4 linked regions of the Homo sapiens genome follow. The protein of the gene in region 3 purifies or fractionates together with the protein of the main gene of each other region. This does not show direct contact. Each region holds a gene or a part of one and is shown on either strand. Other genes may lie near its edges. The genes, in order: DIRAS1, RAB3GAP1, NCOA7 and GABPA.

Region 1 (2,325 bases), on a different chromosome or scaffold from region 3:
CCACCTTCCCGGGCAGGCCCTGCTCTCTGGGGCACAGGTGGTGGGGAGGAAGTGGGTGGGGCAGACCTCTGTCCGGGGCGCCCTCGGATCCTGCTGGTGCTGGCTCCCATCGGCTGTCCCCCCACGGGGGTGTAATTGATGTATCTCTGGCCGGGGCCCCGGGTACCCCCTCCTGAGCACCCCAGGTCCCCACCCGCCATGCGTTGCTAACGTCTCTGTCTTGGTGGAAGAGGCGGGTCCCGGGTGGGCGGTGTCCGGGAAGCCCCTCCACGCCCATGGTGCCTCTCCAGCGGGGCAGTTGTGCTGTGGATGTGGCTGGTCCCGGGGGTGGGATTCGGGGCTGGCAGGGGCACTGCTGCAGGCCCTGTGGTTATTGCCTGGTGGCCTGAGGCCCATCCCACGGGCCCCACACCCCACTGTGAAGACAGAGGAGAGAGGTGCGTCTGGAACCGGAGGAGTGGGCACAGATCAGAGGTCACGACGGGCCGGGTGGGCTTGGGTGTATGTTAACACCAAATAGGAGAAAAAAGAAAAAAATATCTGAGGCCGATGTGCATTTTCAACTCCCCCCTCCCCCAGAAGGTCACAGTGATCAAATGTGAGGGACAGGACGCGCAGGTCTGGCTGGGGACACCCCAGGGAAAGAGATGGAAACGGGGAAACGCAGCCTCCTCTGGTCCTGGTGGGAACAAGCAGCTCCTCTTGCCAGCTCCCCATCCTGTTTTCCCATCTGCAGGACAAGGGGGCCACCTCCGGCTCTTGGTTTTGGAGGGTACAGACAGAACAGGAGGGTGGAGAGAGAGCAGGGGAGGAAGAAAAGCCCCAGCCCTGCCTCGGGGTGGGCAGGGGCAGCGGAGGGGGGGGCGGTGGCCTCGGTTTCCCCAGCCGAGGTGTCGGAGGAAGGATGAGAGAAGAGGAGGAGGCCGAGGAGGGTGTCGGTGTTGGGGGAGGCAGCGGGGGTCAGTGGGGGTGGGCGGCGGGCAGGCGGGCGTTCCGGGCTCACATGAGGGTGCATTTGCCCTTGACGCGGTCTGTCCTCTTCTGCTTCCCGGAGCGCTTGCCGTCGATGTTGAGGCTCATGTTCCGGCGCGTCTCCAGCGTCAGCAGCTCCTGGAAGAGCTCCTTGACGTTGTAGTTCATCTTGGCCGAGGTCTCCATGAAAGCGCACTTCCACTCCTGGGCCACCGCCTGCGCCTCGCGCGTGTCCACCTCCCGCTGCGTCTCATCGCACTTGTTGCCCACGAGCATCACGGGGATGTCCTCCACGCTGCCCTTGATCTGCACGATGAGCTTGTAGATGGGCCCCAGCTCCTCCAGCGACTGCTTGCTGGTGACGGAGAACACCAGGATGAAGGCGTGGCCCTTGGAGATGGACAGGCGCTGCATGGCCGGGAACTGGTGGCTGCCGGTGGTGTCTGTGATCTGCAGCGTGCACACGCTCTTGTCGCAGCTGATCACCTGCCGGTAGGTGTCCTCGATGGTGGGGATGTAGGTGTCGCGGAACGTGCCCTTCACGAAGCGCAGCACCAGCGAGCTCTTGCCCACGCCGCCCGCCCCGAACACCACCACGCGGTAATCGTTACTCTGTTCCGGCATCTTCCCCGCGGCGGGTGGGCGGCCGGGGCCGGGAGGGCTGGTGCCAGCTGCAAGAACCCCAGACCGAGCCTGTGCAGAGAGGAGGGTCACACGTCAAAGGCCACCCAGGCTTGAGGGGACAGCCCCACGCCCCGGGGAGGGAGGAGGACATGGCGGCTTCTCAGAGGAGGTGGCTGCCGTGCCTCCTGCCTCCTGAAAAGGCCCATTTGCTTGTGGCTGACTTTGCAGTTCTGTCCCACAGGCGGGCGCACAGCCAACACCCTTTGCTTACTTCTCCCTAACAAAATCTGGGGCCTGAGCTTCCCCGGGGGACGCTGAGCTAGGAGAGGCGTGGGAGACGCCGGGATGCCCACGAAACTCCTTCCCCGGGTGTGGGTGTCCCTTCCAGGCTGTGCCAGCTTCCCCCTCTCTTCCCAGTGTGGCAGGGGCCCCTGGAAGCTAGCAGGCCTGGCTTCCACCTCTCGCTCCACACCTGCCTGGCTCTGAGACCTTGCCGAGCCATCATGCCACCCTGAGCCTGTTTGGTGGCTCAAACGGTGCCCGTCTCCAACAACCATGGGTCCCCTGCTCTTCCGCCAACCCAGAGATGGCCAATCCTCATGGAAGCCGCACATGGTCGGGTGTTTAAGATGCATATGTCAGGGCCGCAGCCCTAGGTGTGATGAATCGGTCGGCCAGGGCAACGGCCCTGGGAACTCGTATTTTATTTTATTCTTCTTATTTATTTAT
Region 2 (3,672 bases), on a different chromosome or scaffold from region 3:
TAAAAGGACTGTAAATAAATGTCTATAGAGAGCCTCCTTCTTAAGACTGTATTCTTAAAAGAATGTTATTCAAATCATGTAGCTCAGTTGTCATGTACACTGGATTTTTTTTTGACCACTCGTACATGTACATATAAACAGAAACCACATGGAAAAGGTACATTGGTTATTATAGGTTTAGACTGCTTCCTACTTTCCAGGGGTATCATAAAATAAAGCTGTGGGTCTTGAATATCATCTCTTAGTAGTCTATATATGAAAGCCTGTGGATGATGTAACTCTTCAGATCCTCATGAGTACATGAGTGTTTTTAAATTGTCTTTTGTGGTTTTGTTTTTTAGATAGTAGTAACACTAAAAAAATGTAATGGCCTTGGGTGAGCATGAAGTCACAGTGATGAGATTTTGCTTTTGCACCTTTCAGCTTACAGAATCAAGTGATTACTTTTAAGAAAAAAATTCTAATTTCTAAAATTGGCTAGTCACTGAAACCTTGTATATTTTCAAAGAAAAATAGAAAAAATTTGAGAGTGTAGAACAAACTGGCCAATACAACTGGAACATTTCTATTGTTAGAGCAGCAAAACCATTAAAAAGTTAAATAATGTCTATATGAGTTATAAAAATCAACAAAATAGGAAATGTGGTCTAAAATGTGATTATTTTTTTCCTTTCCTTCAAGTTCTTATTCCCTGATGCTGTTTCTGAGAAACCATTAGATGGAACTACTTCAACAGATAATAATAATCCTCCATCAGAGAGTGAAGACTATGTAAGTTGATGTGGAGTTCAATGTTAAAATGTTTTAAATGCACTGAATTTCTAGAGGTTCTATATATTTCTAGTTTAATAGCTTACTATATTTTTATTTTAAAAATCACCTTGGGAATTTTGGATGGCAGATCGTGGTTTCCACTTAGATAACTAGCACAGATACATATTTTGGGTAGCAAGAATTTTTCTGGAAACAATGAAAAAATAGCACAAATATACTCTACACAGCTGTAGGATTTCCCTCATTGTAGAGTTTTGGTGAAATCATTAAATTTGTGTTTCTCAGCAGATTCTTTTTGATATTTTAAAACTAGTTAGTGAATGGACAACTCTTTAATGAAGTAAAATGTGTAAAATTAGGTAAAATTTTCATGGTCTCTTTGTCTAGTCTTTGAAAAATTAAGAAGTTGAAGAATTTAAATGACAAGTGTAGATATATATCAACCTTTACAGTAGTTATTGTTGAGAAGTAGATTTGATGAGGTGAGAGAAAAAAGCAAAGGCTTTTTACATTTTCAGTTTAGATAGTTATGATTTTTGTTTTTTCAGACGTGCTCATTTTTGTAATTAAAAGATTTTTAAAACAACACATGAAATTTGGAATACTTCCTAAATATTCCACAGAAGAAATTGAAAGCTGTAACTTTAGCTTCATTAAACTATAGCTTTATCTTTTTTAATCTTAGTAGAAATCTTGAAAATGTGGGACTTCCTAAGAATAGTTTATGCAGTAGTGTATTAGACATTTGATAATGCCTAGTTTAGGTGGGATAGGTTAATTTTACAATTAAAATCTCTCCCTACGACCTTTTCAGTTATATGTGTAAAATATTTTGGTAACAAGTTTGCTTTGTTTCTATTTTGTTAAATTTAGAATCTCTACAATCAGTTCAAGTCTGCACCATCTGACAGTTTAACATACAAACTGGCTTTGTGTCTCTGTATGATCAATTTTTACCATGGAGGGTTGAAAGGAGTGGCACACCTCTGGCAGGAATTTGTTCTTGAAATGCGTTTCCGATGGGAAAACAACTTTCTGATTCCAGGGTAATAATTTCAATTTTCAATTGTTTGGATACGATTTTGTTTGTTAGCAGACATTTGACTTTTGACCTATTTTTTCCCCCTTCTAGGAAGTCTGCCCTAAGAAAGTGGCAAGAAGCTTAGACATGATTTATGTTCAGAGGTGTTCACTGCAGCAAATTTATTAATATAATAGAAAAAAAGGCAAAACCTAAATATCAAACATAAAAGAATAGTTAAATAAATTATACTGTATCTCTACAATAGAAAATTAGATTGATTACAGTTTTTCCCCCAATAATCTTTAATAACAGATGTTCATATTGTTTCTAATAAAGTAGAATATTTTAATGCATATACAAAGTACTTTTAATTATGTTGCTATATTTGTACAGGAAAAATATTATAAATACTGTGAAATGCTATCAGTTTTTCCCAGTGTGAAATTATACTTTTATTTTGTTCTTTATACTTTTATGCATTTTCAAAGTCTTTTGTAATAAACCTGTTTTTTGTAATTGACATTTTACTTAATCAAACAGAACATTTTCATTAGCACATAGGTTGATATTGCATAGTTTAGTGCTCATCTACCCATGCTATGATAGGAGAATCATGATTTTGAGCAATATAAAATGATTACTGATCCAAAAACATTTATATCATTTGCCAATCTCTGCTTAGCTGGATTCTCTCTTGGTTTTAGACAGTCCGCTCTGGAACATTTTACAGACCCAGAAGCATGTTGAATATGAGGGAGTGCCTCTGGCTGATTGCTGGGAACCTAGTAGTCTAGAGGAACCTAGAACTAGAGACAGTCCAAGGTCCTATTGAAATACAGGTGGAGATCTTGGTTTTTATAGTGAGAATCCACTGTAAGAATTTAGTACTGAATACACAAACTGATTTATTTTGTATGGTGTGAAATACTGTATGCTAGTACTTCCTGGAGTGGGTTCAGGGGCTTTTTCTCATTTTGAGTTTTTGTTAGCCTGAAAACTATCACTAATTTGCTGTTATGTTTTGAAATATCTATTATATTTGCTATTGGTGATTTGTGGACAAGGAGTATAAAATAAATTTTCATCTTTTAATTCTATGTGCTCCCCCTCTGGAATTCACTTACCTTACCTGTGGAAATCTAGTTTTGATTTCTTATCAATATAGCTAAAAATTATGGTAGTATAGAAAATAATCATATCTGAAGCAATTTTACTAAAACTAAGCTTTCTTTTCTCCTTACTTTATTTGATAGATTAGCAAGTGGACCCCCAGATCTGAGGTGTTGTTTACTGCATCAGAAACTACAGGTAAAGATTTCTCAATGACATGGATAAATGTGGTCTTGATTTAATCAGATTATTCTAATACTAAATGTAATAATGGGTTACATGCTGTTCTCATGGTGCTGCTGTAGGTTGCCTATAGTCAGTAGTCACTGCAATTCACAAGGTCCTGAGAAGTGGAGAGTGAAAATTAAATATTCAAGCAGTAGGTAGATTTTTATTTTTCTGTAACTAATTCAACTATAAATGTTATTTCTCTTTTCTTAAGATGTTAAATTGTTGTATTGAAAGAAAGAAGGCACGTGATGAGGGGAAAAAGACAAGTGCTTCAGATGTCACTAATATATATCCAGGGGATGCTGGAAAAGCAGGAGACCAGTTGGTGCCAGATAATCTAAAAGAAACAGATAAGGAAAAGGGAGAGGTAGGAAAATCTTGGGATTCCTGGAGTGACAGCGAAGAAGAATTTTTTGAATGCCTAAGTGATACTGAAGAACTTAAAGGAAATGGACAAGAGAGTGGCAAGAAAGGAGGACCTAAGGAGATGGCAAATTTAAGGCCGGAAGGACGGCTCTATCAGCATGGGAAAC
Region 3 (3,672 bases):
TATTGCCCAGGCTGGTCTCAAACTCCTGGGCTCAGGCAATCCTTCTGCCTCGGCCTCCCAGAGTGCTGGGACTACAGGCTGAGCCACTGTGTCTGGCCATTTTTGCCTTTGAAACCTTAAATGTGAATAAGTTTCCCTTGGAGAGGATGCATTCTCCAATTACCTAATCTCAACCATCTAGGGAGAATTTCAGATGTAATCTTGTGAAAAATAACATGTTGAATTCTACAACTTAAAAGAAGTCTCTTTAATAAAAATGAACTTCAGTGCATAATATACATACAGGCAATTTATCATATTCTGCATCTGATGATGAAGGAGAGACAGTAGCACCAGGACTGGATGATGATAGCCTTAAGGTACTGGAAGGAGAGTTGGCATCTGGCACAAAAAGGACCTGAGAATGGGAGAGAACAGATGGGTGAGTACCAGCAACCAGGCAAACCACTAGTGAGTGTTTGGAGAAGTTATTCTCTACACAGTATCATGTTCAGTGCATGATTACGACCTAGGTTGCTTTCAAGAAACTCATAAGCAACTTACGGTTTTCTAGACTAATCCATGAAATGATACTCAGCATATGAATGTGTGTAGTACAAAGGGTACAGAACATGCCTGTAGACACTGCAAGAACTCAAAAAGAAAGGGAGAGCAAGGCCAGGCACAGTGGCTCATGCCTGTAATCCCAGCACTTTGGGAGACCAAGGTGGGCAGATCACCTGAGGTCAAGAGTTTGAGACCAGCCTGGCCAACATGGTGAAACCTTGTCTTTACTAAAAATACAAAAAAATTTAGCTGGGCATGGTGGCTCGCACCTGTAGTCCCAGATACTCGGGGAGGCTGAGGCAGGAGAATCTCTTGAACCCAGGAGGCAGAGGTTGCAGTGAGCCAAGATCGTGCCACTGCACTCCAGCCTGGGTGACAGAGGGAGACTCCACCTCAAAAAATAAAATAAAATAAAATAAAATATAAATAAATAAATAAATAAAAAGAAAAGAGAGAGCAAGGTGGGTAAGTATTCTGGGCAGGCCAAGTGAAGCAAGTGGGTCCAACTGAAGCCTTGAAGAACAAGTAGAAATTGGATAGGAGAGAGGGAAGAGCCCTCCAAGGTGGGAGACTAATAGTATAAGGGAAATGAGGAGAGAGAAGCATGGCTTCTAAACTTAATATCTGTGCCAGGTAGAAATGGAACAAACCCAGCTTGCTAACTCCAAGCAGGCTCTGAGTTCTAAAGCAGTAGGTCCTTATATGATAAATTGTATAAGGTAATATCAATAAAATAATCCCAATATTTTCTCTTCCAACAGTGTCTGGGTTATGTGTAACTAAAAACTACCCCCACCCCAAAAAATTATACAGAATAGCAACCTCTGCAAAACATTCTGGTTCTCAAAACATTACTACAATCCTGTCATTCAATATTCTTTTAATGAGACATGCTACATTGTGGCATGTATCAAATATAATCTTTTGTCTTTTTCTGAGATGGAGTTTCACTCTTGTCACCCAGGCTGGAGTGCAGTGGCATAATCTCAGCTCACTGCAACCTCCACCTCCCACATTCAAGAGATTCTCCTGCCTCAGCCTCCCAAGTAGCTGGGATTATAGGAACCCACCACCAAGCCTGGCTACTGGCTAATTTTTGTATTTTTAGTAGAGATGGGGTTTCACCATGTTGGTCAGGCTGTCCTTGAAGTCCTGACCTCAAGTGATCTGCCTACCTTGGCCTCCAAAGTGCTGGAATTACAAGGATGAGCCACTGTGCCCGGCCAAATATAATCTTAAAATGATGACCTTTAATGTTATAAAACAGAATTCAGAGCTAATCATATAACAACTGATTACTGATCAATATTGTTATTCACTGTCTCCTATCTTTCCAGTCATTTAAACCTCACTTCAATCCAGAAAATATTTGAGACAACAATAAAAAAACACATTAAAATAAAAGTGGGAAAATCAAAGTCAAGGGGGGATATAAGATGAGGACTGATAACTACTAAAAATATATGCACCAAAACTGGTAACCACTCATTAAGAAGTGGGCCATAAAAGTGACTCTGAGTTTCCATATAATTAATGCAAAGAGACAACATCATTAGTTAGCAGAATTCAACTTCCATGAGATAAAAATGAAGTTTCTCAGAAGTACAAGTACTCTCCTACAGAATCTCATACAAAGGAGCATCCTAGACTGAATTATTTGTCCTCTATGATGCACTAACAGTAAATACAATAACCAGTTTTGGAGTATTGCCTTTTATAGCATCTTCAATATGGGTCAATGGAAATGCCAAAGTTTAGAGTTCTGTAAAAAGCAATTTACAAAGGACTAAAATTTTGTGATCTTGGTATATAGCTCTTATTTATCTTATATAGCTAAACTAGAGTAATGGATGGATGATGTTTTTCCCAAGCAATTCTCCACTAATAGTAAATTTTTTTTGCATCTGAACTCTTAAAAAAAGTATTAGGTAACATAGATTGCGATTCAATTGTCTGAACATTCCAAATGTCAAATCTAAGGAGTAATTCCTGTGCTTAAACAGTTGACTGCACTGTAAAGAGAGGTGAGCAGCCGCCAGAACATGTGCTACCTCAACATGGAAGTGAGCCTGGATCATGGGCAGGGGTGAAAGTTTCCTATTGCCTTCAGAAAATAATTTTGGGTTTGCTCCCAACACATATGCCAATCAGGATTTGAGGTCTTAAAGTTCTTAACCATACAGCAATGCTGTCATTTCAGCCTGGAAAAAAATTTTAAGCATGTGTAGCCAAGGTATCCTGTGAATATGAAAATATCGTAAAGTTGAGCTGGGTGCAGTGGCTCATGTCTGTAATCCCAGCTACTTGGGAGGCTGAGGTGGGAGGATTGCTTGAGCCCAGGGGATTGAGGCTGCAGTGAGCCATGATGGTGTCACTGCACTCCAGCCTGGGCAACAGAGCAAGACCCTGTCTCAAAAAATAAATAAATAAAAATAAAGGAGAGAAAATATTGAACCAAAGCACATTATCATTTATCATAATCCTGTGACAAACAATAGTGAGGCACTGAAAACGGCAATAAAAGATAAATGCAGAATTTCTAGAGTTATATCCAGTAAGAGTATAATTACCTGGCCTGGAACAATAGTATGTGTGAAAAGTTTATTCAGTTCCACCAATTTATTGGGAGTGATGTTAAATTTCAGTGCTATGGAGTTTAGGGTGTCCTGGTTTCCAGCCTAGAATAATCAAACAGGTAAGAGTCAATAAATAAAGCAAAAAAAATTACTTTTGATAGATACTATTAATTTATCTGCAATATGAATAAATAACAAACTAATAGTTCCATCAAGATAGACTATAAGAAAGAATGAATACATTGTCAATTCTTAATAAAATCATTTTACAGCAAAGTCTTAAATGCAATTCATTTCTGGGCTTCCTCATTTTCAAATTTCACTGTCCCCTAATAGATTTCTAATTTTACTTTGGTGCAACTGAGGCGCATGAAGTAAAGGTCCGTGAGCTGTAATGAAGACTACAACAAGAAAAGAAATACGATGTACACAGAGTCCCCACCCTCAGGGGAAGTGGGGCTACTTTCTCTCTTATAATTTTCTGTCTATTTGCATGACTTTTCCATATACTATAAACTGCTGGCTTGTATGGCAAAGCTGGCAAAATGTT
Region 4 (3,672 bases), on a different chromosome or scaffold from region 3:
TACATTTGCTTTATTCGATGTAGTTTTTCTCTACCATTTGGGAACATATAAACTAAATTATTTTTTGGTGACTTCTGCGTTTTCATTTAGATTTACAATTTTTTTTTATCCACTGTTCAGGAATTGAACCAAAGTTAAACATCCTTGAAATTGTTAAACCTGCGGACACTGTTGAGGTTGTTATTGATCCAGATGCCCACCATGCTGAATCAGAAGCACATCTTGTTGAAGAAGCTCAAGTGATAACTCTTGATGGCACAAAACACATCACAACCATTTCAGATGAAACTTCAGAACAAGTGACAAGATGGGCTGCTGCACTGGAAGGCTATAGGAAAGAACAAGAACGCCTTGGGATACCCTATGGTAATAAAATGCATAATTCTATATTGGGTAGAATAATAGGAATTAAGCTTGACATAGAAGACACTAGGGTAAGTTATAATCTATTTTACATGTAGAGTTATTAGGATGAATGTTGATTTTCTGTATCTCTCTTTTAATTGTAACGCACATTTAAGCTCATGTGGTGGACAAATTCTGTCCTGCGTGCAGGAAATACAAAGAAGTCTAAAAAATTTCTGCTCTTAGGGTGTTGAGAGTGTAGTTGAAGAGAGAGAAGATAGATGAAAAGAGATGATTGCCATAAAAGGTAACATGTTTTTAAACTGCCAGTAACTCTTGTAGAAGTATGCTATTGGAATCTCAAAGAGATCATAGTTGCCCTGAGGGAAAGCTGAAAAGAGTTTATTATAAATAAGATACCATTGGGCAGAGAAAGACATTTAAGACAGGAAATGTTATGTGCAAAGCTTAGACCTGGGGGTATGCATGAGTAGTGAGAAAATGGAGTGGTTAAGGAGTTACTCTGTAGCATTACAGAACTGTTTTTGATTGATGAAAATGATAATTGAAAAATGAATATGGTGGCAATATATGGCATAAGTTGGAACAGGTAGAGACTAAGTGAAGGGAAAACAGGAGCATATTATTATAGTTGTGACTGGATGATAATGTCTACATTAGCCCAGACTCCAGATGATTTCTTTGGGAGTAGCAAGGAAAAAGTGGATGAAAACAGTGATAGGACTGAGCAGATTGACAGATTTTATGAGGGTAGAGAGGGAAGATACAAGTATTGATCTAACTTCTCAAGCTTCATCTTGGTGACTAAAACAGTAATAATCTTGATAAAAATTGGTTCCATCATCATTACATATTTAGTGAACACTACCGTACACCAGGCACCATGTTAAATGCTGGGCTTAATTAAGATGGTGCACTATGAAGAGCATGCTTTCAAAAGCCCAGTTGGGGAAGTAGAGAAGTCTGGTATAGGAAATGTTTTTTTCAAGAGAAGGTGGATAGCACTTGATTTTGATGTGGAAGTTTATATTCAGCTGGAGGTTAGCCAGAAAATGGTTTCAGTTATATAAGATTTGGGCTGGAGACAAAGATGTTATATGAGACTCATTCCCACTGAATTTATATTTGAAGCTATAAAAGTCTACGTAGTCCCTGATGGAAAGCGAGAAATGGAAAAGAACACACAACTAAAGGCATATACACTTGACCCTGTAAACATTTAGGGTTGGAGAAAAGGGAGACAAGAAATAACTGAAGAGACAGAAAGAAAGTAATAACTTATATGTATAGTGTCACTGAAATTGAGGGGAGAGTTTGGATGGTCAAGACTCTCAGATGCTGCTGAGAAAGTCAAAGAATGCTGACTGATATCTATTAAATTTGATGATCAGAGGATTATTCTTAAATTTAGACAGAAGTAACTAGAGTTGGCGAGACAAAACAGAATTATAAGAAATAGATATCTTAGAAATGGGGGCAGATGAGGAAGAATGCTGGGGTAACAAATAAATAATACTGATCTTCCAAGAGTTGGCGGGGACCTGAGTGTATTTGTAAATGAAACAGTATTGTCGGGTTTTTGTCCTTTTTTTATTTTTTATTTTTAGAGACAAGGTTGTACCTGGGGAGCAGGGCTGATGACAGAAAGGCTGTATTGTAGAACCACTGTTTTCCCTAGGACATTTTTTTTCTTTCTTTAAACCAAACCTAAAAGATACACAGTAAATGAGAGAGCTTACCCATGGAACTGAAAGAGAGCTATGGAACCAGACAGCTAATGTAGAATTTCAGTCTGTCCCTCCGCTGCCCAGTACTGTAGCCACTAATCACACGTCAGCACTTGAAGTGTCTCTGGTCAAAATTAAGATGGGTTGTAAATGTAAAAATACCCATTAAAAGAAAAAGTATAAAATCTTTTCTAATTTTTTATATTAATTACCAGTTGAAATAACATTTGGAACATTAAGTTAAAATAAATTCATTATTAAGATGTATTTGACCAACTTTTTAAATGTAACTATTAGAAAATTTAAAATTACATAATGGTCTGCATTGTATTTCTGTTGGACAGCCCTGATCTTGATAATTGTAGCCTTCAGTTCTGGATGTTCTTACTGCATTATTTTGATAAATACCTGTGTTCTTTTTGCTGGAACTCCTGTTGAATCTCTTGAGTTGATCTGCTGCATCTTTTTTCTTGTTTATTTTTCATCTTACCTATCTGCACTACTTTCTGCCAGATTTTCTTGTGTTTTTAATATAACCTATCTGATTTTTAATTTACAAGGGCTCTTCATTTTTGTTTGTTCCTTTCTGTAGCATTCTGATCTTATATTGCCAATATCGTGTTTTCTCCTACTTCTCTGAGTATATTGATTATATATTTTTTTTTAACTTTTAAAAAGCTTTACCGTGGTATATCTGTTTCTTGTGGATTCTGTTTTTCTTGTGGTTTTTGTTTGTGTTGTTTTTAACCTTTCCCAAGTATCTAATTATTTTTGCCCATCTTTTCATATTTAAGAATTAATCACTTTAGGCCAGGCACAGTGGCTCATGCCTGTAATCCCAGCACTTTGGGAGGCTGAGGCAGGTGGGTCACTTGAGGCCAGGAGTTTGAGACCAGCCTGGCTAACATGGTAAAACCTGTTTCTACTAAAAACACAAAAATTAGCTGGGCGTGGTGGTACATGCCTGTAATCCCAGCTACTTGGGAGGCTGAGGCACAAGAATCTCTTGAACCTGGGAGGCGGACGTTGCAGTGAGCCGAAATTGCACCAGTGCACTCCAGCCTGGGCAACAAAGTGAGACTCCATCTCGAAAGAAAAAAAATAAGAGTAAATAACTTTAAAGCTAATTAATGCGAAGTTCTGAAGGATTTGATAACTATATGCTGATAAAACGAGGCATTGACTATTTCATTAAAAGAATTTCAGGCCAGGTGTGTTGGCTCATGCCTATAATCCCAGCACGTTGGGAGGCTGAGGTGAGAGGGTTTCTTGAGGCCAGGAGTTTGAGACCAGCCTGGGCTATATAGCCAGACTGTCTCCAAAAAATAGAAAAAAGAGCTGGGCATGGTGGCATACACCAATATCCTAGGAGGCTAAGCTGGGAAAATTGCTTGAGCTCTGGAGCTTGAGGCTATAGAGAGCTTTGATGGCACCACTATACTCCAGCCTGGGTGGCAAAGCAAGACTGTCTAAAAAAAAAAAAAAAAAAAAAGGGCAAAGAAAAGAGTTTCAAACGTGTCAATATTTATAGATCTTTTTGCAGATACCTGTCAGCAGTAGAAGATAGGGGTGAGCATTT

What was found.
Region 1: the proteins of NCOA7 (region 3) and DIRAS1 purify together in Homo sapiens (affinity purification with mass spectrometry; one large-scale study listed by BioGRID and IntAct). This does not show direct contact.
Region 2: the proteins of NCOA7 (region 3) and RAB3GAP1 fractionate together in Homo sapiens (co-fractionation; one large-scale study listed by BioGRID). This does not show direct contact.
Region 4: the proteins of NCOA7 (region 3) and GABPA fractionate together in Homo sapiens (co-fractionation; one large-scale study listed by BioGRID). This does not show direct contact.

Annotation. Positions count from the first base shown.
Region 1 is NC_000019.10:2,716,211-2,718,535, forward strand, and holds part of DIRAS1 (GTP-binding protein Di-Ras1), read right to left. Parts: exon of another isoform or gene 2,102-2,325; coding exon of another isoform or gene 2,069-2,101; intron 1,666-2,068; coding exon of another isoform or gene 1,597-1,665; coding exon 1,000-1,596; 3' UTR 1-999. UniProt on the Homo sapiens protein: Displays low GTPase activity and exists predominantly in the GTP-bound form.
Region 2 is NC_000002.12:135,132,214-135,135,885, forward strand, and holds part of RAB3GAP1 (rab3 GTPase-activating protein catalytic subunit), read left to right. Parts: intron 1-681; coding exon 682-771; intron 772-1,647; coding exon 1,648-1,820; intron 1,821-3,051; coding exon 3,052-3,106; intron 3,107-3,350; coding exon 3,351-3,672. UniProt on the Homo sapiens protein: Catalytic subunit of the Rab3 GTPase-activating (Rab3GAP) complex composed of RAB3GAP1 and RAB3GAP2, which has GTPase-activating protein (GAP) activity towards various Rab3 subfamily members (RAB3A, RAB3B, RAB3C and RAB3D), RAB5A and RAB43, and guanine nucleotide exchange factor (GEF) activity towards RAB18.
Region 3 is NC_000006.12:125,877,815-125,881,486, reverse strand, and holds part of NCOA7 (nuclear receptor coactivator 7), read right to left. Parts: intron 3,225-3,672; coding exon 3,117-3,224; intron 398-3,116; coding exon 284-397; intron 1-283. UniProt on the Homo sapiens protein: Enhances the transcriptional activities of several nuclear receptors. Involved in the coactivation of different nuclear receptors, such as ESR1, THRB, PPARG and RARA.
Region 4 is NC_000021.9:25,751,869-25,755,540, forward strand, and holds part of GABPA (GA-binding protein alpha chain), read left to right. Parts: intron 1-120; coding exon 121-366; intron 367-3,672.